7 linked regions of the Homo sapiens genome follow. The protein of the gene in region 4 interacts with the protein of the main gene of each other region in a pairwise test. Each region holds a gene or a part of one and is shown on either strand. Other genes may lie near its edges. The genes, in order: TRAF3IP1, CCDC102B, PROSER3, SGF29, TFIP11, CLHC1 and C20orf202.

The links.
Region 1: the proteins of SGF29 (region 4) and TRAF3IP1 interact in binary tests that used the Homo sapiens proteins (3 or more experiments, as listed by UniProt).
Region 2: the proteins of SGF29 (region 4) and CCDC102B interact in binary tests that used the Homo sapiens proteins (3 or more experiments, as listed by UniProt).
Region 3: the proteins of SGF29 (region 4) and PROSER3 interact in binary tests that used the Homo sapiens proteins (3 or more experiments, as listed by UniProt).
Region 5: the proteins of SGF29 (region 4) and TFIP11 interact in binary tests that used the Homo sapiens proteins (3 or more experiments, as listed by UniProt).
Region 6: the proteins of SGF29 (region 4) and CLHC1 interact in binary tests that used the Homo sapiens proteins (3 or more experiments, as listed by UniProt).
Region 7: the proteins of SGF29 (region 4) and C20orf202 interact in binary tests that used the Homo sapiens proteins (3 or more experiments, as listed by UniProt).

What each region holds. Positions count from the first base shown.
Region 1 is NC_000002.12:238,351,518-238,355,017, reverse strand, and holds part of TRAF3IP1 (TRAF3-interacting protein 1), read right to left. Parts: intron 2,192-3,500; coding exon 2,068-2,191; intron 1,846-2,067; coding exon 1,809-1,845; intron 1-1,808.
Region 2 is NC_000018.10:68,895,580-68,899,079, reverse strand, and holds part of CCDC102B (coiled-coil domain-containing protein 102B), read right to left. Parts: intron 1,862-3,500; coding exon 1,652-1,861; intron 1-1,651. UniProt on the Homo sapiens protein: During interphase, forms fibers at the proximal ends of centrioles to maintain centrosome cohesion. During mitosis, dissociates from the centrosome following phosphorylation to allow centrosome separation. Contributes to CROCC/rootletin filament formation.
Region 3 is NC_000019.10:35,756,725-35,760,975, forward strand, and holds the start of PROSER3 (proline and serine-rich protein 3), read left to right. Parts: upstream 1-1,451; 5' UTR 1,452-1,491; coding exon 1,492-1,502; intron 1,503-2,601; exon of another isoform or gene 2,602-2,649; coding exon 2,650-2,746; intron 2,747-3,064; coding exon 3,065-3,267; intron 3,268-4,251. Other genes in the region: HSPB6 (heat shock protein beta-6), read right to left, coding at 87-284.
Region 4 is NC_000016.10:28,556,920-28,560,419, reverse strand, and holds part of SGF29 (SAGA-associated factor 29), read right to left. Parts: intron 1-3,500. UniProt on the Homo sapiens protein: Chromatin reader component of some histone acetyltransferase (HAT) SAGA-type complexes like the TFTC-HAT, ATAC or STAGA complexes.
Region 5 is NC_000022.11:26,505,974-26,509,473, forward strand, and holds part of TFIP11 (tuftelin-interacting protein 11), read right to left. Parts: intron 956-3,500; coding exon 802-955; intron 487-801; coding exon 330-486; intron 1-329. UniProt on the Homo sapiens protein: Involved in pre-mRNA splicing, specifically in spliceosome disassembly during late-stage splicing events. Intron turnover seems to proceed through reactions in two lariat-intron associated complexes termed Intron Large (IL) and Intron Small (IS).
Region 6 is NC_000002.12:55,176,794-55,180,293, reverse strand, and holds part of CLHC1 (clathrin heavy chain linker domain-containing protein 1), read left to right. Parts: intron 1-2,512; coding exon 2,513-2,692; intron 2,693-3,500.
Region 7 is NC_000020.11:1,202,234-1,206,253, reverse strand, and holds the start of C20orf202 (uncharacterized protein C20orf202), read right to left. Parts: upstream 2,801-4,020; 5' UTR 2,669-2,800; coding exon 2,603-2,668; intron 1-2,602.

The sequences.
Region 1 (3,500 bases), on a different chromosome or scaffold from region 4:
CTGTACATCCCTAATAGGATATACCCAACAAACAGGCAGACATACCTACCAAAAAAAAAAAAGTCCTTGGGCTGGGCTTGGTGGCTCACACCTGTAATACCAGCGCTTTGGGAGGCCAAGGGGGCCGATCACAAGGTCAGGAGTTCGAGACCAGCCTGGCCAACATGGTGAAACCCCGTCTCTACTAAAAATACAAAAAAATAACTGGGTGTGGTGGTGGGCGCCTGTAATCCCAGTTACTCAGGAGGCTGAGGCAGGAGAATCTTTTGACCCCGGGAGGCAGAGGTTGCAGTGAGCCAAGATCGCGCCACTGCACTCCAGCCTGGGCGACAGGGCGAGACTCCATGTCAAAAATAAATACATAAATAAAAATAAATAAAATAAAATAAAATAAAATCCTTCAGCGTTTCCAGTAATCCTATTGTTGTTAAAAACCAGTCGTGGTGTTCTAAAATTGCTATGTGAGCATATGAAGGATCATAAAGCATGGGGACAGCCGCTGCTGCTGGGAGCCAGGCTTTTTGGCATGAGATGGAAGAGATGCATATATAAAACCAAAGAATGCAGGCAAAACCCTACAATCCTAAATCGGAATTGGAAATATCATCACTAAGTCAGAATATACTTTCTTATTTTAAAAAAGTATATCCCTGCTTTTGCAGTGAAAATGCCTGGAAACAAGAAGCAACCCAGAGCAGTAAGCGGCCAGGTGCCTTGGAGAAATGAGGCAGTTATGGGGCAGGAAGTACACAAAATAAGCTGGAAACACCTTGTCGTATCAGAAAACAAGGAAGCTAAAGAGTGTACTGGGATGTGTCTAAAGGCCCCCAGAAAATAACTCCAATAGGCTCCCCTGGTCAAATACTGGGCAATCTGAACATTAATAAGAAAAACTGAGATGGGCTGAAATGAAACACATCCACTATGTTAAAAATCCGTGACTAGGCTGGGCACAGTGGCCCATGCCTGTAATCCCAGCACTTTGGGAGGCCAAGGCGGGTGGATCACTTGAGGTTAGAAATTGGAGACCAGCCTGGCCAACGTAGCGAAAACCTGTCTCTACTAAAAATACAAAAATTGGCCAGGCATAGTGGTGCACGCCTGTAGTCCCAGCTACTTGTGAGGCTGAGGCACGAGAATCACTTCAACCCGGGAGGCAGAGGTTGCAGTAAGTTGAGATAGCACCACTGAACTCCAGCCTGGGTGACAGGGCAAGACTCCGCCTCAAATAAAAAAGGGTGGCTTCATATAGATACCAAAAAAAACCCCAAACCCCCAAAACCAACAAGCCCTCGTTACTCACCTGTGATAGGTGCCAGGAAACAAAGTCATATTGTGAGAACAGATCTATAAAGGAAAGTACTCAGCCTGCCTCTTCTGCAGAAACTGTGTTCCAGGATACTCAAACCCTGGTGTGGGGAACGGGGTTTGCACTACTGAGTTGTCCAGCTAGAAAACCAACAATAACATTCCAGAACTAGACTTGCAAAGGGCCTCAGAGATCATCTACTTCCACAATTTAATCGTACGGAAGAGACGAGATGTCATCTGCAGGACAGTTGCCAGTGAGTTTCCAGCTTCCAACTGTGCCCTCCCCCTCCTCTAAGGATGGGGAGCAGCAGCCATCGCCTTAAGAGTAATCCATGCCCGCAGGGTCCTATGTACCACCAGTGTGATCCCGCCAGTGTGACCCAGACCAGAACCTGGCACACAACAGTCCCTTGCACTGGATCCTTCCAGGCCCACGTGGAGAAGGTGCATGAGCACACACACATGGACATACATGCACACTCGTGCCCAGGACTCACCATGCTTCTCCTCTTCTTCTAGTTCCACTGCTGTTACCTGAGCAGGAAAGGAAGGGGGAAAAAGAAGATTCAGGCTTGTTGAATTTTAAAGATCATGCTTCTGTGGATCTCAAAAAAAGAACAACAAAATTAACGAAGGTAGAAAACTAACTGAAAAATTACAGGACATTTTTGTCTACATAAATCTAAAAGCTAGACTATTAATCTCAATGAAGGTAAAACATTATTATTAAAAAACATCATATTTCGGTTAACTAACCATTTCAATTTCTGACATTTCAGAGAGCTGAGGGGCAGCTTCCACCACAAATTGATCATCCTCTTCATTGTCAGAATTGTGTGACTCTGTAATCACATTTGAAACGGTTTTACCACTCCCTGACCTAAATAAAAAGAAATTAGATTAAATTAGAATTACACATTTTCATCAGTCCCAAGCATCTGAAACTGTGTCAGAGGTCGGCAGAGAGGAATCTAATCACCAACCATCTCTAGCTAGAACAGCATCTCAAGCTACCCGCTGAAGCTAAGATGGACTGTCTGCAAACAGTGTCCTCTGCAAGCCCTCCAGGCCTGAGTCCCTGTGAGCCTCGCCCTCCACCCCCACCCAGCTTCCCCACGTCCCTGTGCTGCCCAGGCCTCCTGGTCCACACCTGGCCTCCCGTCCCCACAGCCTCGTCATGCCCTCTACTGCACAAAGACCCTCAGGGCCTCCGCCTCTCCCCTGACTGCGCTCTCAGTGACACCAGCCCTTCACCTGCTGCTTTCTACCTGGAGGCGCTTATTGCCCTGGGTCACAAACCTCAGGGCAGGGGCCACATTGGGGTCCCACTGACCAGGGCTGACCCCAGACCTCTCTTCACACAGCCAGCTGGAGGCCCCTCATTCAACTCCTAGTCACAGTGGCTGCCCTATGTCCCGCTCAGCACCACGTACACACTGCGCTCCACCCAAGTCCACATCATTCTGGGCAAGTCAGCGTCCAACAGCCTGGCCCTCCAGCCCCAGACCTTGTCCTCCTTGGTGACAGCCTTCACCCAAGGGCTCTCTCATGCTCTCCAGGGCCACCTACTAGAACTGCCCCACCTACAGCTGCCCCACTCCTCCTCACTCAGGCCACTGTCAGCTCACTCTGTACAAATGTGAGCCCCCGACCCAAACACTCTACAGGCTCCTTAATGGCCCCTCCTGCCTTTGTTTCTTCCCTACACACTTGTGCTTTAAGCAATCACCTAACTCCCCCTGCCCCGTTATCGCAGTGCTGCATGCGTGCACATGCATACACACACACACACACACACACGCATACACACAAGCACATGCACGCACACGCGCGCGCGCGCACACACACACACACACACACACACACACACACCAAAATCCTCCCTTGCTTCAGTGCCATGCACAAGGTCCAGAGGGAATGTAGACACTTGGGAACGACCTCTGAAAATAACACCCATTGCCCCAAACATCCTCGACTTCCTCAACTGGGTCCTTGAGACACTCAACAACCACCTGTGTGGCTCCGCCAGGACCAACCTCACTTCGAACCCGCTGCTCTGTCAGTACCAGGAAGTCCAGGCTCCCGTCCCTCGTCTCTCACGCTCCCAGCACACCCTCACTGTGGCCCACGATCCACCTCCTCAACACCTGCGCCCCTGTGCCTGCCGTGATCGGCAGGCCCTCTCTGTC
Region 2 (3,500 bases), on a different chromosome or scaffold from region 4:
CAGTCTTCTAAGTGATCAGCATACCCACTGACTTAGACCTTTGAGGATCCTCTCAGTTTCCAAGTTCTGCTTAGTCCCAGCCCAAATAACTACATTGTCAAAGAGACCAGGTCTGGACTCGGTGTGCCCTGATGACAGGTTACGCCAATGCCAGCTCCAAACAGGTCTCAATTTTTCCCGAAAGATATACTTTATATTAATACATTTTGATACAACTAGAAAGGTGCCAAAATCAAATATAATCAATTGCTTCTTAATCTGTGTCCCCTTCCACTTTATTCTTAGCAATCACTATAATGTTTTATTTATAAAAATTTGTGTGTTTGACTCCCTATATAGACTCTAAGCCCATGCTGGGTGGGGATAATGATTCATTGATTAATATTCTCATTACCTGCATATAGAACAGTGACTGACACAGAGAATAATACGAATAAATGTTTGTCTTGTTTGAATAAATCAAATAAAAAGTATTTCTATAATCAAACCACAGTCCATAATTGAGATAATTCTGCACTTTTTAGAGTAGAGATCTCCAAAATAAGATGTCTACAGATTTATCAGTGTACATATGTCAGAATCAAATACATTATTATGGATAGTTTATGAATCAATATAATAGAAAATTATGGTCACGGACTATAACATTTAACTTTAGATATTTGCATTGCTAGGTCATGAAACACTAATACAATTTAATCTTGCATTTGCAATAAATCCCTAGATTCATGAAAGAATGATGAAATAATATGGAATTCAATTTTTCTGGCCATTTAGGTTTTAGAGCTTATGTGAGTATGAATGACTTAAATATCTCAAAACTATGAACTTATCAAATTCACCTTTTAAAACTGTTAAAGAAACTGAGTGAGAAATAGAATTGTGCATTAAGATGCTATATATAATTGAAAAATAGAAACAAGGTAAATATAATTTACAGCACATTGACACGAACCCACATTAAAACTATAAGACTGCCATTAAAAGCACATTTAAAAATCTGTAAACTATCAAAAAAATGTCCGTCTATAGCATAAACTATATCTACTGGCTTGGGGATAAAACACATCCAAAATTAAATTTCCCAAATTTAAATTCTGAATGTTATCCTGGTTTTAAGATTTATACCACAGGCTGGAAAAATTATTTGAAAAATTATGCATTTCATTAGCTCAAAAATAATCGTTCTGAAACTGACAAAAAAGAACCAGAAAGCAGTGAGTTTCAGCTAAATTTAAATGTTTATGCAGATACTTACCATAGCTACCAGCAAATGCTTATTGTATAGTCGCTTGAATTAATGAAAAAATCTTTATTGGAAATAAGATCATTAGCTTAGAAAATACTGAGACAAAGCTTTAATAAGAAACAAAAAACCAGAAAGTTCTATTTCTTACTTCATTTTTCTTCTTCCTTTTGGAAATCTTGAAACTGTCTGAAGATTTGTCATATTTTAACATTTGACACACTTTGTTTCAGATGCATGAACGTTATTTTACATCCTAGTGGGCAAAAGAGCAAGGAGTATCAGGTATTAGCTGGCACAAAAGGAAATATCCAAATGTGGAGGCGTGTACGAGTGAAGACAGACTCTGCGTAGGCATCAGAGTGAGATTAGACAGTGAGAATTTGCTCCAAGGAGCACCCATACCTGGTTTTTTTCTTGCAGATCAATTTGTGACATCTTGAAATCAGGACTTTGAGAGTTTGCACTTAATCTATTTTTCTTATCCAAAAGCTCTTCCATTTCTTTCACCTGGATCTTCAGCCTTCTATTTTCTCTCTCCAGTCCCTGCTTTTCTCTTTCAAGTATTTCCCTCTTGTCCCACTCCGAGGTATTTTCAGCTTGCAATCTCTCTAGCTACACACAGAAAACACAAAGAAGCAGCATGCAGCATTTGCAATTGCCAAAAGATAATGCCACCCACAACCAGACTCCCATTAAGAAAAGTTCATGGATATGTCCACTGATACAATTTTAAAAAGAAAATTCTATTTGTTTGAAAACATGAGAAAAATACAAAAATCCTAAGATCAGGCCAAACCGTAGATAAATATACTTTTCCTCTTGGTTCATGTAACTATCTCTACAGCCATATGTACCATATTTTTCAAATATATGTGTCAAGTGAAGAACTGCTGCTCTTGGGAACATTAATCTCCACTCTCAACTGATAAACATTCTCAGTGGAGAAGACACAATATCATTTCATGGGCAATTTTGATTGGATATATTTCATTTATTCATTCACTCAATTATCTAGGGAATAGACAGATGCTATATGGATCTCTCTATCTCTATCTCTCTATCTCTCTATCTATGCAACATTTGCAGTTGCCAAAAAGTAATGCAAAAAGTAATTTAATTTTATATTGAAAAAATATATATAATTTATCATTTTATATTTTAAAATTTTACATTAAAACATTTTCAACATTAAATTATATAAAATTCAAACTATACCACAAATAAAATCGTATTGGGACATGGCCACGCTCATTTCTTCACACTTTGCCTATAACTGCCTTCACACACAATGGGTAAGTTAAGCTGTTGAGAGAGAGACCATATAGGTAGTAAAGCCCAAAATAGTTACTTTGTGGTCCTTTACACTAAAGTTTTGTCAACCTCTGCCCTCTTCCCATGGTTCTCAACCAAGGCTGCATGGTATATCAACATGAGGAGATTTTTATTACTATCAATGACCAGAAGCCTACTCTAGAAATTCTGATTTAAGATAATTTTAATATCTCCTTTGGTTTTTGTTATTTTAATGTCTTTAAGTTTTAAAGAGGCAATATCAAATGTATTTATTTTCTGCAGTTTTATTACATCTAAGTGCTTATTATTATGAGATGAAATTATATTCGTCTGCTATAATTTTTCTGTGGACATTGTAAGTAGAAGTGAATAGTAGCTTTTTTGTCTCTAAATTATAGTCCTGAGCTATGCATTCTAATGTGACTTCACCATTTATTCTCTGGATAAGCTTAGTCAGGTAACTTCATCTACCCCAATGTAGACAACTTATTTAATCTGACAAGGTTTGTGAGAAGTGAAATTAATCAAAGTAATTAGAAAGCACTTTGTCTAGCAATGTAACACTTAAAGGAGAAACACTGTGGTAATATAAATTTTTTAAATGTATGTTTCTCTCATATATTTAGGCATATGGATATCGAGACATCAATGTAATTTATTGCATAAATCTATACAGCAGAGTAACTCTTTACAGTAGAAAATCTATTAGAATCTCATCCTGGTCCCACCATTTACTCATTGTCTAATTCTGGACAAGAAATTTATTATCTTATTAAGTTTTCTTACTAGTAAAATTAGTATGATACCATACATATAATACCATAAATACAATAGCACAAATACCATATTTGTGGTATTGTAGGGACAGAAGAGGGTCAACTACTCAAAATTCCTTGCAAACTATTTAGGATGATTAGAGTATGAGGCATTTTAAAAATATCTCAAAAGGATAAAAATT
Region 3 (4,251 bases), on a different chromosome or scaffold from region 4:
ACATTCTCTCACATGTTCCCACCCCAGGCTGCCCCAGACCCCTGGCAATGGAAGTGGTCGAGTTCACCCCTCCCCAGGCCTGGCACCTGGGCGACGGGCAGCGCCACGCTGGGTGCGCGCAGGTAGTAGGGGGCGAGCGTGGTGGGGCAGAGCGCAGCCAGCTCGGCCTCCAGCAGCCCCTCGCCGAAGCGCTGGTCAAAGAGGCGTCCGGGCGCCGAAAGTCCGGGCAACGGGGCCGAGGCGCGGCGCAGCCAAGACGGCTGCACAGGCACAGGGATCTCCATCCTGCTCCTCCGCGTTGCAGTGCCCCTGCGTGCGCAGCCGCTCATTTATAGTGCGCCCTGTGCCGGCCCCTCGGAGGGCTGCCCAGGGACACTGGGACCGTGGCCAGACCCGGCCATTAGGAGAGCCTTATTTAGAAACCCAAACAATGACTTGGCCATTTATTAAGCGCCTGCTGGATGCCTGGCAAATGCTGTCAAGAAGGTGACATGAAGATTCCCCAATTTCCAGAAGAGGAAACTAAGGCTGAGGAGGGGGAGCCTTGCGGGTGTGGGGAGCACAGCGTGGTGATTGGGGCCCAGGACCCAAGAGGCCCACGGAAGAGTTTCCAGTCCCTTTAATCCACTGCCTCCCCCCTGGCAGCTCTGAGGATGACGCAGATGGAGGTCTTTAGGAGCAGATTCCTGGAGAATGCGGTAGCCCCGCCAGGATGTCAGGAGGACATAGAACAGGCCCTCCCTACCCTTATCCTCAGCCAGACCTTGGGCCCAGTCCCCCGGCAGGCCGGGCCTAATTCTGTGCCTCTGACTCAGCCTCTGGTGCGCAGAGGCCAGGGGGCGCGAGCATGAACAGTTCAGGCTGGCCCCCCGGGGGCCGCGCGCTGGGGCTGGAAATAGCTCATTTTGATCCCGCTACCTCGGCCAGGAGCCCAGACCTGGCAACTGATGCAACCAGCTGCTCCTGCAGCAAGAAAGAAGTTAGATGACCGTTGGGACGGACTGATTGGCCCAACTGATGGAGGAATAGCGGTTAGAGAGAGGGCAGAGCGCGCCCCCCCCCCAACCCGCCCCACTGCCCCTGCAACAGAAAGAATGGTAGTTAGACCGGGGTCGGGACAGGACTTCTGCAGCAAGAAGGCGCTTAAAAAGCGGGACTTTTAAGCGAGGGTACTTTAGATCACCTCCTAACCGCAAGCCCAGCCTCAGATCCTTCCCATTGGTGCACGGTCTTGCCAATTACTGCTACACTCGGCAGGTTCTCCAATCAAACACGCCCTGTCGGGCAGGCAGTCGTCCCAGCCAATCCTGAAACACCTCCCTCCGGGTACTTCTGTTTCCTCTCTTTCATTGGTCGCCTTGGAGGCCGCTCGCCTCCGGCGCGGGCACAGAGAGGGGCGGGGCTGATAGGGCGTTGCTAAGCGACGGAGATGCGCGCGGGGCCTGTTGGGTGAAGGAGCAGAGCGGCCGGAAGCGCGGAGGGAGCCGCGGGATGGACCGCAGGTGAGGCCGATCGCTCTTCCAGGGACTACAGGAGGCTGGGGAGGACCAACGGCGAGAGCAGCACAGCCTAGGACGGGCTGGATACGGTCTGGAGTCGCTAGGGCTCCACCGCACTGGAACTACAATTCCCAACATGCTCCACAGCCGTTGGCCTCTCCAGCCGTAGCCGTTAGCATCCCGGGGGTCCCCTAAGAGTCTTATGTTCCTCTCTGAGTGGGCCCCAAGGAATTATTGCCTCTAAAGGTGTCCAAGAAAGGCTTGAGATCTGAATTTCTTCATTTTGAAATGGCCCCCAGACACGCCTGGGCGTTGTCTTTGAACTTTCTCGCGGAGGCGGAGCCCAGTGGATCCTGGGGCTTGTAGTCCATCTACCCTTTGCCTTCGTGTCCCCCAGGAATGTATGGGAAATGCTCGGTGATATAATCCAGCCGCGGTTCTTTCTTTCTTTCTTTTTTTTTAAGACAGAGTCTCTCGCTCTGTTGGCCCAGACTGGAGTGCAGTGGCACAATCTTGGCTACTGCAACCTCTGCCCCCGGGTTAAAGCAATTCTCATGCCTCAGCCTCCCAGGTAGCTGGGACTACAGGCACCTGCCACCGCGCCTGGCTAATTTTTTATATTTTTAGTAGAGACGGGGTTTCGCCATGTTAGTAAGGCTGGTCTCGAACACCTGACCTCAAGTGATCCACCCGCCTCGGTGTAATCCCAAAGTGCTGGGATTACAGGCGTGAGCCACCACGCCCGGCGAGCCGCGATTCTTAACCTGAACTCCACTTCGCAATCACCTGGGACGCTGCGGAAAAGACACGGAGGCCCAGCCCCACTAATAGATATTCTGATTCTGTTGGTCTGGAATGGGAACCGCGCGCCTGTAACGTTGAAAAGCCCCTCCTAGACTGGATCCAGGGTTGAGAACCACCGGCTGTCAGTTCCTGAGTTGCTCCCTGTTAAGACTGCTCCAGGGGCGGGCTCCCAGGACTCACCCTTCCACTGTCGATATCCTGAATGTGCAACGGTGCTTCATGGAAATGACAGTCCGTCTCCTCCAGGAATCTATGGGAATTGTCTGGTTCTGCCCTCCTCTAATGTCCCCCTCCCCAGGGCTGCGGCGAAACCACGTGCTGCCTGAACCCCACTTTCCTCTTGCAGCCTGCCAGTTTTCTCCATTCAAGATAGTCCCTTTGGAGATGCGCCCCTGGGTCGAAGCCACTACTGGCCATCCCAGAGCCAGACCTGGTGTCCCAAGGTGAGGACACCCCTCAAAGAGTGCTGAGTGCCAGCCCAGTAGCAAGAGAATGACCTTTAGAGGGTAGGAAGACATGTGATGAGAGATAGGGATGAGAGATTTAAGAGACAGCCCCTTGTCCCCTCCCCACGGCCCTGCCCTTGTCCCCCTCTCTACCACCTGGATTCCCCATCTGAGCCCCCATCACACTAGGTTGTTATCATTACAGGATGTGTTTCCTCCCCTCTGGACTGAGACTTTGTGTGTGTCCTGGTTCCCCTGCAGGGATGACCCATGAGACCTCACACTTTTTCTTCTTGTGCTCTTCCCTGATCTTAGACCCTGAGCCCATCCAGGTCTCAGAGATCCAGGCTCCCACAAGCTCCCAAGGCTCTAGCCACAGGTCCCAACTCCCCTGAGCTGTTTGAGGAGTCCTGGCCATCCAGTTCAGGGACCCCCTCCCTGCCCAGCACCACTGAGGGACAGATGTGGGCCTCCCCAGCACCCACCCTGATTGACAGCGGGGACTCCGTGGTGGCCAAGTAAGTACCAGCAGCCCTGGGGGAAAAAGAGGCTTTGGGTTAGAGGGAGGGAGAAGGCATGCAGTAATAATCATCATGGCCAGAGCTGTTTCTGCAGCACTCTTTTAGGACCAGGCAGTTTATGTGTGTTAAGAACTCTGGTGCTAGACTGCCTGAGTTCAAATCCCAGCTCTGTCATTTAACTCTCTGTATGATCTTGGCCTCAGTTTCTTTATCTCTTTTTATTTATTTATTTATTTGTTTAGAGACAGGGTCTCGCTCTGTTACTCAGGCTGGAGGTCAGTGGTACAATCACAGCTCACTATAACCTCAAACTCCTGGGCTCAAGCCGTCCTCCCACCTCAGCCTCCTGAGTTGCTGGGATTACGATGCATGCCACCACACCCAGCAAACCTCCCACCTTGGCCTCCAAAAAGTGCTGTGATTACAGGCCAGACGTACCATGCCCAGCCTCAGTTTATTTATCTCTAAATTGGGTGTTTTGTTTTGTTTTGTTTTTGTTTTTGTTTTTTTGATGGAGTTTCACTCTTGTTGCCCAAGTTGGAATGCAGTGGCATGATCTCGGCTTACTGCAACCTCTCCCTTCTGGGTTCAAGTGATTCTCCTGCCTCAGCCTCCCAAGTAGCTGGGATTACAGGTGCCCACCACCACACCTGGTTAATTTTGTGTATTTTTAGTAGAGATGGGGTTTCACCATGTTGGCCAGGCTGGTCTCAAACTCCTGACCTCAGGTGATCCACCTGCCTCAGCCTCCCAAAGTTCTGGGATTACAGGTGTGAGCCACTGCCAGGCCTAAATTGGGCATATTAATAGTACACATCCCCTAGGGCTGTTTTGAGCTTTCAGTGAGTTACTATATATAATGATCTCTAGCAGTGCTTCTCACATAGTCACCACTTAGATTTGTAGAATACAGGTTCAGCTGCTGTAACAAAGAGTCCCAAATTAATTATGGCTGAAACAAGATAGAATTTATTCCTCCCT
Region 4 (3,500 bases):
ATGGGGTTTCACCATGTTGGTCAGGCTGGTCTCGAACTCCTGACCTCGTGATCCACCCACCTCAGCCTCCCAAAGTGCTGGGATTACAGGCGTGAGCCACTGTGCCGGGCCCATTCATTGCCTTTTTTTGTGAACACAGATCATATTTTCCTGTTTTGTAAAAATATATTTTAAAATTTTCGTGGTTTTTTTTTTTGAGTCAGAGTCTTGCTCTGTTGCCCAGGCTGGAGTGGTGGCACGATCTCAGCTCAACCTCCACTTCCTGGGTTCAAACAATTCTTGTGCCTTAGCCTCCTGAGCCTCCTGTGTACCACCACGCCTAGCTAATTTTTTTGTACTTTTAGTAGAGAAGGGGTTCTGCTATGTTGGCCAGGCTGGTCTCAAACTCCTGTCCTCAAGTGATCTGCCTGCCTCAGCCTCCCAAAGTGCTGTGCTGGGTTTACAGGCATAAGACACCATGCCCAGGCCATTTCTTGTGTCTAAGAATTTTGGATTATATCCTGGACATTGTAGATGATGTGTTGTAGACTCTGGATTCTGTTATGTTCTTGAGAGTTTGGTGTTTTGTTTCTGTTAACATGCAGTTAATCACAGCTGAACTCAAACTCCAAATCTAGCTTCCCTGAGGCAAGCATCAGCTGAAATCTGTACTGATCTTTTAAACTTGGCTAAGTTGCTTGGAATATGCCCCATGTTTGTCTAGTTCAGAGGTTTAGGCAGACTTTTTAAAATAACAGCTTAATGGGCCGGGTGCGGTGGCTCACACCTGTAATCCCAGCACTTTTGGAGGCCAAGGTGGGCAGATCACTTGAGGCCAGGAATTCGAGACCAGCCTGGCCAACACTGTCTCTACTAAAAAAGTACAAAGATTAGCTGGGTGTGGTGGCACACACCTGTAATCCCAGCTACTTGAGAAGCTGAGGCACAAGAATCGCTTGAATCCGGGAGGCGGAGGTTAAAGTGAGCCAAAATCGCACCACTGCACTCCAGTCTGGGTGACAGAGTGAGATTCCGTCTCAAAACAACAACAACAACAAAAACAGCTTAATGAAGATAATTCGCATGCCATACAATTCTCTATCTCTCTATCTACTTATTTGAGACAGGGTCTCACTCTCATTGCCCAGGCTGGAGTGAAGTGGTGTAATTACAGCTCACTGCAGCCTTGACTTCTTTGGCTCAGTCAATCCTCCTGCCCCAGCCTCCCAAGTGGCTGGGACTACAGGTGTGCACCACCACGCCCAGCTAATTTTATAATTTTCTGTTGAGATGAGGTCTCATCATATTGCTCAGGCTGGTCTCAAACTACTGGGCTCAAGCAATCTTCCTGCTTCAGCCTCCCAAAATGTGCTGGGATTAAAAATGTGAGCCACCGCACCCACCCCAATTCACTTTTTTAAAGTGTGCAATTCAGTGTTATGTTAGTCACAAGGTTGTGCAAATATCACCACTATCTAATTTTAGAACATTTTCACCAACTCTCCTTAAAACCTTATACTCATTAGCAGTCATTCCCCACCCCCTTCTCCTCTCAGTCACTGGCAGCCATTATTCTAATTCATATTTGTAGATTTGCCTATTCTAGACATTTCATATAAATAGAATTGTACTGTGACCTTATGTGACTTGCTTCTTTCACTTAGCATGTTTCCAAAGGTCATCAATGTCACAGCATGTATCAGTAACTTCATTCCTTTTTATGGTTAAATAACATTCCATTCTATGGATAGATGTCGTTTTTAATCCACTCATCTGTTGAAGAATTTGTGAAGAATTTGGAATCCCTTCTCTGGGGCTATCTTCTTTCCATCATGGGCTTTTTAATGCCTCATGACAAGGCATTTAACAAAACCAATAAACAGGCGGGTCGCAGTGGCTCATGCCTGTAATCCCAACACCTTGGGAGGCCAAGTACAGAGGATTGCTTGAGCCCAGGAGTTTGAGACCAGACTTGTCAACATAGCGAGGCTCTATCTCTACCAAAAATAAAAAGTACCCAGGTGTGCAGCCAGGCGTGGTGGCTCACACCTGTAATCCCAGCACTTTGGAAGGCCAAGGCGGGTGGATCATGAGGTCAAGAGGTCAAGACCAGCCTGGCCAACATGGTGAAACCCCATCTCTACTAAAAATACAAAAAAAAAAAAAAATTAGCTGGGCATGGTGGTGCATGCCTGTAGTCCCAGCTACTTGGGAGGCTGAGGCAGGAGAATCACTTGAACCCGGGAGGTGGAGGTCGCAGTGAGTCGAGACTGCACCACTGCACTCCAGCCTGGCGACACAGCGAGACTCCGTTTCAAAAAAAAAAAAAAGTACCCAGGTGTGGTGGTGGACTCCTGTAGTCCCAGCTTTCAGGAGGCTGAGGCAGGAGGATCTCTTGAGGCCTGGAGTTCAAGACCAGCCTGGGAAACACAGCAAGACCCCGTCTCTGAAAAAAAAAAAAAAAAAAAAAAAAAACAGAGAAAGAAAAACAGAAAATACTGGTGACATAATTTAGGCTTCTGGATAGAGTCCCATCTGAAACTGATTTACTCCAGGACTCTTCAGCTACAGTCTGTGAGGAAAAAACAAAACTTTCTCCTCTGCTGTCACAATATAGGATAATCAACACATAAGATTTCCGTGGCCAAATGTGTGGAGATTTCTCCCCAACACCAATCAATCCATTGAGTCTGCAGTGGATACACGCTGGATGTCCTCTAATTCAGTTTATTTCCAACACTATCCACCCAGACAGAGTGTCAAACCCCACAGGTTGAGGGCTCAGTCCCACGAGCATGTCCCCCCAATTCTCAATGCCAGTCACAAGCCCCCAGTTGCTTTATTTGTGCTTCTGACCAACTGACTATAAATCAGGGTTTCCATGACTCCCTCCTTGGGTTCCATTAATTTGCAGGAGCAGCTCTCAGCACTCAGGGAAACACTTAGGTTTACTGGCTTATTATAAAGGATGTCACAATGGATACAGATGAAGGAAGAGGTGCACAGGGCAAAGCATGTGGGAAGGAGCGAAGAGCTTCCATACCCACCCTGGGCACGCCACCCTCCAGGAAGCTCCAAACTGGGATACAAACCAGATATATATTTTACAATATCACAGAGTCAACAAACACCCCTTTCAGCTTAGGCTAGTCAGAGTAGCTTTTTGTTATCTGCAACTGAGTAGCTTGACTAATAAGAACTTTCATTAAGCACGGTCTGAAGAGATAGCCAATTCTGAGGGACAAAGGCTGCAGGGTAGAAGCATATGTTAACCACTAATACCCAGCCTAAAATTGCTGGCCCTTTTACTATAATAGCATAAAAGGCCTCAAATAAACAAATCCAAATATCCTACACTTAAGCCACTCTAAGATTAATCCCACAGGGCTTAAAACAGTAAGAGCTTTGTTCTGGGTCAAAGGGAAAGAGGAACCTAATACCCCACACTCACATCCCACACTCTCAACCCAGTCACTAGCAATGAGAATCTGCAAACTGGGTGCAGTGGCTCATGACCGTAA
Region 5 (3,500 bases), on a different chromosome or scaffold from region 4:
AAAGTGCTGGGATTACAGGTATGAGCCACCACACCCAGCCTCATTTTTGTTTTTAGAAGCACTGGTCAGGACCAGAAAAAAAGCCTGTTTTCAACCTGTTTGCAGCCTGTTTTAGACCCTAACCCTTTCCTTGCTGTTGAAACAATTACTTATTTAACTTGAGCTTTGATAAAGCAAGGTAGCTTAGGAACGCAAATGTCTTGTGCTGGCAAACCAGGCTGGAGAGATAAAGTGCTTTTAAAAGGGAAAAGCAAACCTCCTCTCCCAACGCCCCTCTCCTTCCCTATGCCTGCCCTCCTCCATCATGCAAGACGACAAAGGTGCAATACCTTGTGCATTCTTCCCGAGGCCCCGTCCAGGGACGTAGCCCATCTTCTGAAGAAGCTTCTGTCCAATTCCTTTTGTGTGTCTTTCCCAGCTGCCGAAGTCCATGAAAGATTTGGTTCCTCCTGCAAAACCTTTCTGGCTGGGCTTAAAATTGCCACCCTGCAAAAAAGAAAAATCAAAGCTTAGTTAATGGAAAAACAAAATGAAGAAAAATCTAAGAAAGCTTGGCCAACAGGAAAATGGCCTAAGTTATACAGCACTATGAAAAGTGTCATATGAACCAAAAATGTGTGTGATAACGTGTCAGGAAGGAAGAGACTGCACTACACACTTCACAACTCACAGAAACCTGCCACCAAAAGGAGACACTCACGAAATTCATTCCAGATGAGTTTCTCCCTGGCTAGAAAATGCTTGGGCCACAATGACCTTTGAAGGATATTCCTAGGGTCACAATCCTGCAATAGAGACTACCGTTTTTAGCTTCCTTGGTCCAAAATCCTTAGGAAAGTCGTCCTGCTTAACAGGTTTCTCTTCGTCATCAGAATCTTCCAACTCTGCCTCCTCCGCTGCCCCTTTCTTGAGCCCTGCGCTGATGAAGTTGACTGGCGCAGAGTAGTCACGGGCCCTGTAGGCACAGAAACAAAGCCCCACCAGGTCGGTAAAGAACTCTTTTCTCTGCAGCGATCCTTTTGCAGAAACTACGTGCTTGAAGACTCCTTAGAGTGAATCTCATGGGAGGTTTTTTAAAAAAGTAACACATTTTTTAATGTGTCAAAAAATCCAAAGGACCCCAGATTTGGCTTCCTGTAGTCACATTTAACATTTTACCTGACATATCCCTCTACGGCTGAAGAGTTATCACATCAATGTAGGGTTGATTACAAATTCAAAATATGATGTGATAATACAATTTTCCTACATTTTAAAAAATTAATTTATCATAAAAAGCAATTGTTTTGAAAACTATTTCAAGTACAAAAATCCAACAGGAGCAGAAATTTTGATGGAAAATCATAAATAAAACCCATTGAAAGATTATATGAATGTAAAGCATGTAACAATTATATTAATCAAACTTAGAAAAAGCTCCTAGCCATTAAATTTATTTGAATGTGAAAATTTCCAGCCAGGGCAACATGGTGAGACTTCGTCTCTATAAAAAAAAAATAAATAAAAATTAGCCAGGCATGGTTGTGCAAGCCTGTGGTCCTAACTACATGGGAAGCTGAGATGGGAGGATTGCTTGAGCCCAGGAAGTTGAAGCTGCGGTGAACTATAATCATGTCACTGCACCCCAGCCTGGGCAAAAGAGTGAGACCTTATCTCCAAAAAAAAAAAAAAAAGAAAAGAAAATTACACTAAAGTCCCCTAAGAAATAAGAAATTAACTCTATAAAATGAAATATATTGATTTAAACTCTGACTGCTTCAAGTACTTACATTAAGCCATTAACCTCAGGTCTTTTTTGTATAAAATAAAATTGATATATTTGTACTGTGTGGTTTAAAAAAGAAAAAATTACAATAAAAAACCCTGGAGCCAGGTACAGCGGCTCATGCCCATAATCTCAGCACTTTGGGAGGCTTGAGGCCAGGAGTTCAAGACCAGCTGGGCCAACATAGCAAAATCCTATCTCTAATAAAAATACAAAAAACTAGCTGAGTGTGGTGGCACACGCCTGTAATCCCACGCCACTCAGGAGGCTGACGCATGAGAAACGCTTGAACCCAGGAGACAGAGGGTGCAGTGAGCTAAGGTCACGCCACTGCACACTCCAGCTTGGGTAATAGAGACTGTGTTTCAAAGAAAAAAAGAAAACCTGGGAATACAGCAAATAAAGGGATGCCTTGTAAAATGACCAACCTAGTAATTCAACACCCTCAGGGCAACAACAGAATTTAGGGAGTTTTTTCCTAAAATTGTAATATAACTTAGTGATTTAGATCCCAAACTCTAGAGTCAGATAGGTCCAGGTTCCAATTCTAGCTTAGCCTCTGCCTAGTTGTATGACCATTAGCCTCAGTCTCTTAATCTGTAAAATGGGGACAATAATGGTACCTTTCTCATAAGGAAAATTAATCCAGGTTTATGAAATAGCCAGGACAAGTAAGCAGCCAAGAGATGTTAGCTATTATTATTATCTTATGATTATGCAATTCTTGTTCCCTGATCTATTTGTCATCCACTTTCAGACTTCCTTGTGGATGAGAAGTTTGGACTAATCTCTATACTCTTTCTCCCCCAGCCTCCTTTGAAAAAGGCACATTCTCAGCTGGGTGTGGTGGCTCACGCCTGTAATCCCAGCACTTTCGGAGGCCGAGGCAGGCGGATGACAAGGTCAAGAGATCCTGGCCAACATGGTGAAACCCCGTCTCTACTAAAAATACAAAAATTAGCTGGGTGTGATGGCACATGCCTGTAGTCCCAGCTACTCGGGAGGCTGAGGCAGGAGAATCACTTGAATCCAGGAGGCAGAGGTTGCAGTGAGCCAAGATTGCACCACTGTACTCCAGCCTGGCGACAGAGCAAGACTTCATCTCAAAAAAAAAAAAAAGAAAAAGAAAAAGGCACACTCTCAATAGGATAGAGCCTAGAGGCCACAGGTGAGGCCATGGAGGAAAAAACCCCCAACCTGGCACACCCTGGTTGAGTGAGGTTCAGCCAGGGCACACATAACCTTGTGCTGGGGAGAAGACGTGCAGCCTGAATCCTCATTGCCCACCACTATCCTAGACCAGTCCTCCACTACCTGTGCAGGGACCACTGGCTTGGCCTCCTCACAGTCTTCCACTGTGGCTCCATGCCTATTGAGCACACCAGCAAAAGGGTCTTCTCAAAACATAACCCAGCCCCACATCACACCCTCTCTATCACACACACTATGCTACCCTTCCCCCTCTCTGCTCCAGCCCCCAAGCCTTTCATATCCTTGTGGATACCGTGATGCTTCCCATCAAGGGCCTTTGCATATTGGGACCTCTTCTACCACCCTAGTTACCTTCTACTGTCAGTCATATCAGCTTAAGGGTCACTTTTCTCCACAGAAATCTTCCTTGACCTCTCAGAATAGATGAAATGCCCTAAAATGTGTTCTCCCTCATGTCCTCATGTCCCTCATGTCCTGCATCACAGTCACAAGTTTGATCGTCTGAGTTGTTAATGCCTATTTC
Region 6 (3,500 bases), on a different chromosome or scaffold from region 4:
AAATACAAACATTTAATAAGCCAGATAGTCCTGGAAATATACAGTTTTAAAGATAGATTTAGCAGATATACTAGAACATACTACATATATGATTTTTAAAAATAACTTATTTGTGAGATATATATATATATATTTTTTTTTGAGATGGAGTCTCACTCTGTTGCCAGGCTGGAGTGCAGTGCTGCGATCTTGGCTCACTGCAAGCTCTGCCTCCTGGGTTCACACCATTCTCCTGCCTCAGCCTCCCAAGTAGCTGGGACTACAGGTGCCCGCCACTACGCCCGGCTAACTTTTTGTATTTTTGGTAGAGACAGGGTTTCACCGTGTTAGCCAGGATGGTCTTGATCTCCTGATCTTGTGATCTGCCCGCCTCAGCCTCTCAAAGTGCTGGGATTGCAGATGTGAGCCACCGCACCCAGCCTGTGATATATAATGTTTTGAACTGTAATATAAGCATCAGAAATGAAGAATTTCTAATTTATTTCAAAATTTTAAAACACAATTGAACAGTAATCTGAGATTACAATTGAACGGTAATCTGAGAGAACTGTGGACCTTAGGGTGACCCTAGTTGGAAGAGCAGAGCTCTTATTCTGGATCTAGTTTGGCAATAACTGTAAGTACAGGCATTGCTGACATCTCCCCATCCCCCAGGCCAGTGCCTGTCCTGATTTGCAGGCTATGTATCCCAGTTCTAAGAAGATGCAAAATGGAACCAAACATGGCCATTTTTAGGTCACATTATTCCAGGAAAAAGGAGTTTTAGTAGTTGTTGAATCTGGTCATTTTCAAGCAATTAATTGACTTTTTCTTAGAATCTATGTTGTTGTTTTTTTAAGTTACAAATTTCTTCATTAATAACAGCATGCCCTATACTATTATTGTAATAATAGCTAGGCTTTTTTTCATGGATTATCTCACTTAATCCTTATGTTGACTCTATGAGGTAGGTTTTGTTATTGTCCCATTTTATAGATGCAAAAATAGTATGTTTCCACAGAGAGGCTGAGGCACAGCTAGAGCTAAGTGATTTGGTTATGTAGTGACAGGACAGAATCTGGCATAGTAGGTATTAATTAATATTCCATTACCTAAGTATACAGTTTCAGTTTCTGTGTTGTTAACTATTATTTTTCCATATGTAAGAATTATATTAGTTAATGTTTAGACATGGGATATAGATTTTAATTACTCTTAGAATTTAAAAATTTTAGGGATGGGTCTGTAGTCCCAGCCACTCAGGAGGCTGAGATGGGAAGATCGCTTGAGCCCAGGAGTTCTAGGCTGCAGTGAGCTGTGATTGTGGCACTGCATTCCTGCCTGGGCATCAGAGTGAGACCTTATCCAATAATAATAATAATAATAATAATAATAATTTTTTAAAAAATAAAATGGATTTTGAAATGTAGTAAGAAAAAGGGAGACGAGGAGTTCAAGAGTAGCCTGGAGCAACATAGTGGGACCCCATCTCTATATATTAAATACATTTTAAAAACCCAAGGCTTTCAGAGTTCAAATTATGTTTCGGGTAGTCCTTGAAAGGCTCTCAGAAGTTATTCTGAAAATTACCTCTATTGTGGCCGCAAAATAATATTTTTACTTTAAAATATTTAGGAAGTTAATACCAAGTTTATAAATTTGAGAGTATAGAGTGGGGCATGCCTGTAATCTCAGCTACTGGGAAGGCTGAGGCGGGAGACTGCGTGAGCCCAGGAGTTTGAGGATACAGTACACAATCATTATGCCTATGGTGAGCCATGCACTCCAGCCTGGGCCACACAGTGAGACTTTGTTTTGAAAAAATTTAAGAATACAAATCATAATTGTAGCTTTAGATTACCTCAATGGTTAACTATTGGGTTAACCCAATAGAGATTAACCCATATGGAATTGTTCTTTTTGTGGCCAAATATAGGAAACTTCATATGGTTCCACCTCTGGCTACTTGAAATAGCTACTGGCTTCTTAAAGTTTTCATTTTTGAATTTCTAAATGCTTGATAGTTTTAGGAAAAAAATTACTGAGTTGCTTTTTCTGTGCAAGGCACAGAAAGAAAGACATTATACTCACCAGAATTTGGTCCAAATATGAGCAACAAGATATAGACAAACAAACTGTAGTATTAGATGGAGACCTCTAATACTACACTTTTCAGATGTGAAAACTGAGTTCCAAAAGAGTAAGTGACTGATGGAGCTATGATTAGAATTCAGGTTTCCTAGTAGCCAATCTGTATTTTTATTATACCACATTTTTTTCATTATAATTATTTGATTATGTTTTGGATACTCTTATGGGTAGTTTTCCTTTGTTTTTTGCTATGCTGAGCATGATTTTTTTTGACGGGGGCTAGGGGATAGTACCGTTGAGTTTAGGTTGGAGTGGGTCATTGAGGGCTTTGAAAGGATTAGAAAAACTGTTGATTGGCAGGTATAGACATTAGCTAGTCCTAGTTTCTAGTTGATTTATGATATTAGGACATTGAGATAAACTTTTTCATTTTTGCCTTCAGATGACCTGTTGCAGCTATTAATGTCATGTCCCCAAGTTGAATTAATTCAGTGTCTCACTAAAGAGTTGAATGAGAAACAACCATCTTTATCTTTTGGTCTTGCTATACTTCATCTGTTCTCTGCAGACATGAAAAAAGTTGGCATTAAGCTACTTCAAGAAATCAATAAAGGTGGGATAGGTAAGTAGAATAAAATGTTGTGGGAGAAATAGTAGTGGGTTATCTAGGGAGAGGTTCAAGATGGTTATGCATGAGTTAACTCAAATTTCCCTAAGAGTTCCTTCTTAGCAAGAGTTAACTTTAGGAGTTTATAAATGTAAAGATTGCCATGTAAATAATAATCTATTGGTAATAGGATATATTTCTTGAGAGAATTAGAATGAAGGGAGTATCTTTATGAAGCTTGAGGGGAATATTACAATAATTATGATCACTAACACTAAAAACTTTGTATATATTGACATATGTGTATATTTAGCTTTTATATGTATTTTAAATGTTATGTAGATATAAACTATATGTTTTAATTCCTAAACCAAATGTATGTGTATTTACATATGTTATTCACTCTGAACCTAACTCTGCTGTGAATTAGAGAATAACTAATTAGGCTGGGTGCAGTGGCTCACCCCTGTAATCCCAGCACTTTGGGGGGCTGAGGCGGGTGGATCGCTTGAGCTCAGGAGTTCAAGACCAGCCAGGGCAACATGGCAAAACCGTGTCTCTATGAAAAAGATACCAAAATTAGCCACATGTGGCATGCACCTGTAGTCCCAGCTACTTGAGAGGATGAGGTGGAAGGATCGCCTGAGCCCAGGGAGCTCAAGGCTACAGTGAGCCGTGACTGTGCCACTGCACTCCAGCCTGGGTGAGACACTGCCTCAAAAAAAATGAGAGAGAGAATAATTAAAACTCACTTTTATTTTCTTTTCATTAATTTAATATAGGAAGTTGAACAGACAACTTCATTTTAAATTACTTGAAAACA
Region 7 (4,020 bases), on a different chromosome or scaffold from region 4:
TAAACAAAAGCTTTTTGGTGGCCTTAATAATTTTTTGGGGCATAAAGGGTTCCTAAGACCCAAAAGTTTGAGAACTGCTGCATTAGAACTCTCCTGTCATCTTCAGCCATCTCCATTCTTTCTCCCATTTTTTCCTGAGAATTTTTTCCCATACATTTTCTCTCTTTTTCTTTCTGTTTATTTATTTATTTATTTATTTTTGAGGCGGGGTCTCACTGTGTTGCCCAGGCTGGAGTGCAGTGGTGCAATAACGGCTCACTGCAGCCTCGAGCTCCTGGGTTCAACTGATCCTCCCACCTCAGCCTCCCGAGTAGCTGGGACTCCAGGTGCACACCACCATGCCCGGCTATTTTTTGTAGAGGCAATGTCTTGCCATGTTGCCCAGGCTGGTCTCAGACTCCTGGGCTCACGCGATCCTCTCAACTCAGCTCCCAAAGTTCGCTTTCTCTTTAAAAATGTTAAAATTCTATTTTTTGACTAAGTAATTCTTAACACATGATAGAAAATTTAAAAGCTACAAAAGGACATATATTTAAAAGTCTCTCCCACCCACCTCACTTTATCCCTCAACTCAAGCGTCCTTCTCCAGAGGCAGCCACTGCAAATGCTTCTGTTTTTCCTTCCAAAGCTGGTCGGGGCAACACATGGTTAGATATACAGATTCTCAGCCTCTCTCTTTCTCTGTCTCTCTTTGCAAGAGATACTTATGAACATTATTTCCCCACTAAAAATAGTGTTTTCATTTTTGTGACAAGCTGATTACAAGTAAGAAGACCAAGTCTGCATCCTCTACTCAAGCATGAGTAACACTGCCAAGAGAATATGTAGCTAGAAAGAGAGATGTGAGGCCAGGCCCAGTGGCTCCCACCTGTAATCCCAGCACTTTGAGAGGCCGAGGTGGGCAGATTGCCTGAGGTCAGGAGTTCAAGACCAGCCTGGCCAACATGGTGAAACCCGGTCTCTACTAAAAATACAAAAAAATTAGCCAGCCGTGGTGGCATGCGCCTGTAATCCCAGCTACTAGGGAGGCCGAGGCAGGGGAATCACTTGAACCCAGGAGGCGGAGGTTGTAGTGAGCCGAGATCGTGCCACTACACTCCAGCCTGGGCGACAGAGTGAGGCTTCATCTCAAAAAAAAAAAAAAAAAGGAAAGACGTGAAGCAAAGGTGTAGTCGGCCTCCCTCAGAACACTGGGACGACTCAGGCTGCAGAGCGAGTGGTCCTGGGCCCATTTTTTCCTAATTCCTCAGAAAACATTCACTCTGTGTTTTCTCGATTTTAGGGTTTTCCTCCTGCACATATTTCTGGGTATGCGCCTACAAGACCACAGTGGGGTTCCCAGCACGGAGGTGGTGATGAGGCATCCAGGCACCCACAGTTTCAGGGAGCATAAGGAAGACAGCTGCCCAGTGCTGGATGCCTGCTGACTGTGGGAAGCTGCAGTCCCTGCTGCTGGAATTCCCTGGTCCCATGAGAAACCCTACTGGGTCAGCCCTTCCTCTGGGGTGATGACAGGGTTGGGTCCCAGCTGGCCTGTTGCCTGGCAACCCAGAAAGGTCATTTTTGGACAATCCTGTCTGTCTCTCCCCAGGATGAGAGGTGTGTATATTGAGAAACAAACCTCTTCTGAGGTTCCCTGAGCTGCCTCCTCTCTCCTGGCTGGTGTCCCCACACACTTGGGGGCACCCCTCTTTTTTCGGACTTGGAGAAAATACCATAATGAAAGGCATAAGCCTGGCTTCCTGAGCAGCAACCACAGGACCAAGTAACATAACATCGGGTCAGGAGAGTTAGTGCTCCATGGGGGAGGCCCTTGCCAATGGGAAATGAGAGACAGGAACGAGCTGGGCAGATGAATTTCCTCTCGTTCTCTCTCCCCCAATGTGCAGTTCCTCCTTCAACCCCTGCAGAGCATCTCAGCTGCTGAGACACCCACTGGGCCTCCTTAAGGCAACTTCTGAAGCCGTAGGCTGCTTGGTAATACAATGTCTGGCGTAATTGCCTGGCATAGCATTGGCCTCTGCTGCCACACCCTATGTTCCTCCCTATCACCACCCTTGGCTTGTACTTCCAAATAAAGTGCTAGTTTCTCAATCCTTGTCCAAGCCTCTGCTTTCTAGGGGACCCAGGCTAAGACATTGGGTGTACGCATGTCCATCTGGGTCAGGGTTATAATAGCCAGCACCACGGTGCCAAGTATTCATTAAGAGGATTACAAGCATCTCTTCAGTGAATCCTTACAATACCCCATATGATATTGGTACTATTGTTATTCCCATTTTGTGATAAGGAAACTGAGGCTCAAAGAGATAAATCCCCTGCTAGAGCCACACAGAGGACTCAGCACACACGGAGGACTCAGTGTCATTCTAAAACCAGTCTGGCCAGCACCACACCCAGCACCTCCCATATAGGCCACGACCTACTTATCCCTGAACCTGAGATCACAATTGTGCATTGTGTGGTAGGTCCCAGAGGGGAGACTGCAGGGTCCATACCGTAGCCTGCAGCCTCTGCCCCAGGGGGGACCCGGGAAGGAAAACCAGAGATCTTTGGAAAATATGTAGTCGGGGCATCAAGGAAAAGCAATGCAAAACCTTACCAGCTCCTTTCTCAGCCACTCCAAGGTCTGCCCAAGACTCGGGCTGGGCTCTTCTGCTATTTTCATCTCAGTGTTCTTAGGAGTGACCTTGACACTGACCTGGTTCTGGGCCCGAGGGATCTTTGACTTGTACATTCCCCCAACTCTTTCAGACTGGCAGCAGGTTCTGGCCAAATCACTGAAGATGGAGTTAATGAGAGCAGGAAGTAGCTCACATTGAAAAATGTAATCTGGCTTTTTTTTTTTTTTTAAAGGGCTTTAGTGCTCTGAACAGAACAAGGAGGAAGGGAGGGAGACCATTATGGGTCCGAGTACCTTGGAGCCTGCTGTTCCAGAAGCCAAGAATATGTGATGCCAACAGGATCACAGAGAATGCAAAGCTTTAAATGGCAACAATATGGTTATTATGAAAATAGGCACTCTTTTCTAAGGGTTTGCTTTGTGCTTTACATATAAACTATGTATATGTCTCATTTGGCATATACCTCCACGGGTGTCCCAAGTCCCTGTCCTCATTTACTTATCTATAGAGTCCAGATAAAGGAAATGCTCACTTTCCAAGTTTCCTTGTTTCTGGAATCCCCATGTGACCCATTTCCAGCAAATGAGATCAAAGCAGCAATTTGCTGTTAGGCTTCCAGAAAAACTTTTACCTTCCTAACAAAAGGGAAAATGTCACTGCTGCTTCCCTTTTACTCCTACTTTCTCCCTTTTCCTTCTGCCTTGAATGTGGATGTAATGTCTGGAGCTATGGTAACTGTCTTGCGACCATAAGACAAAGCCCAAGAAAATCACAGAGCCATTAGAAATCATTGCACCCCTGACTCGGCAACAGCATCTATATGAGAAAACAGACCCGATGTCTAATGGAACACTCTGCTACTTGCAGGCAAACACAGTCCTGACACACCATTTATTCTTCCCATTGTTATAGGAAAGGGGTCCCAACCCAGACCCCAAGGGAGGGTTCTTGGATCTCATGCAATAAAGAATTCAGGGGGAGTCCATACAGTAAAATGAAAGCAAGTTTATTAGGAAAGTAAAGGAATAAAAGAATGGCTACTCCATAGATAAAGCAGCCTTGAGGGCTGCTGGTTGCCCATTTTTATGGTTATTTTTTGATGATCTGCTAAACAAGGGGTAGATTATTCATGTCTCCCCTTTTTAGACCATATAGGGTAACTTCCTGATGTTGTCATCGCATCTGTAACCTGTCATGGCGCTGGTGGGAGTGTAGCAGTGAGGATGACCAGAGGTCACTCTTGTGGCCATCTTGGTTTTGGTGAGATTTAGCCACTTTCTTTACTGCAATTGTTTTATCAGCAAGGTCTTTACGACCTGTATCTTGTGTTGATCTCATCCTGTGACTTAGAATGCCTTAACCATCTGGGAATGCAGCCCAGTGGGTCTCATCCTCA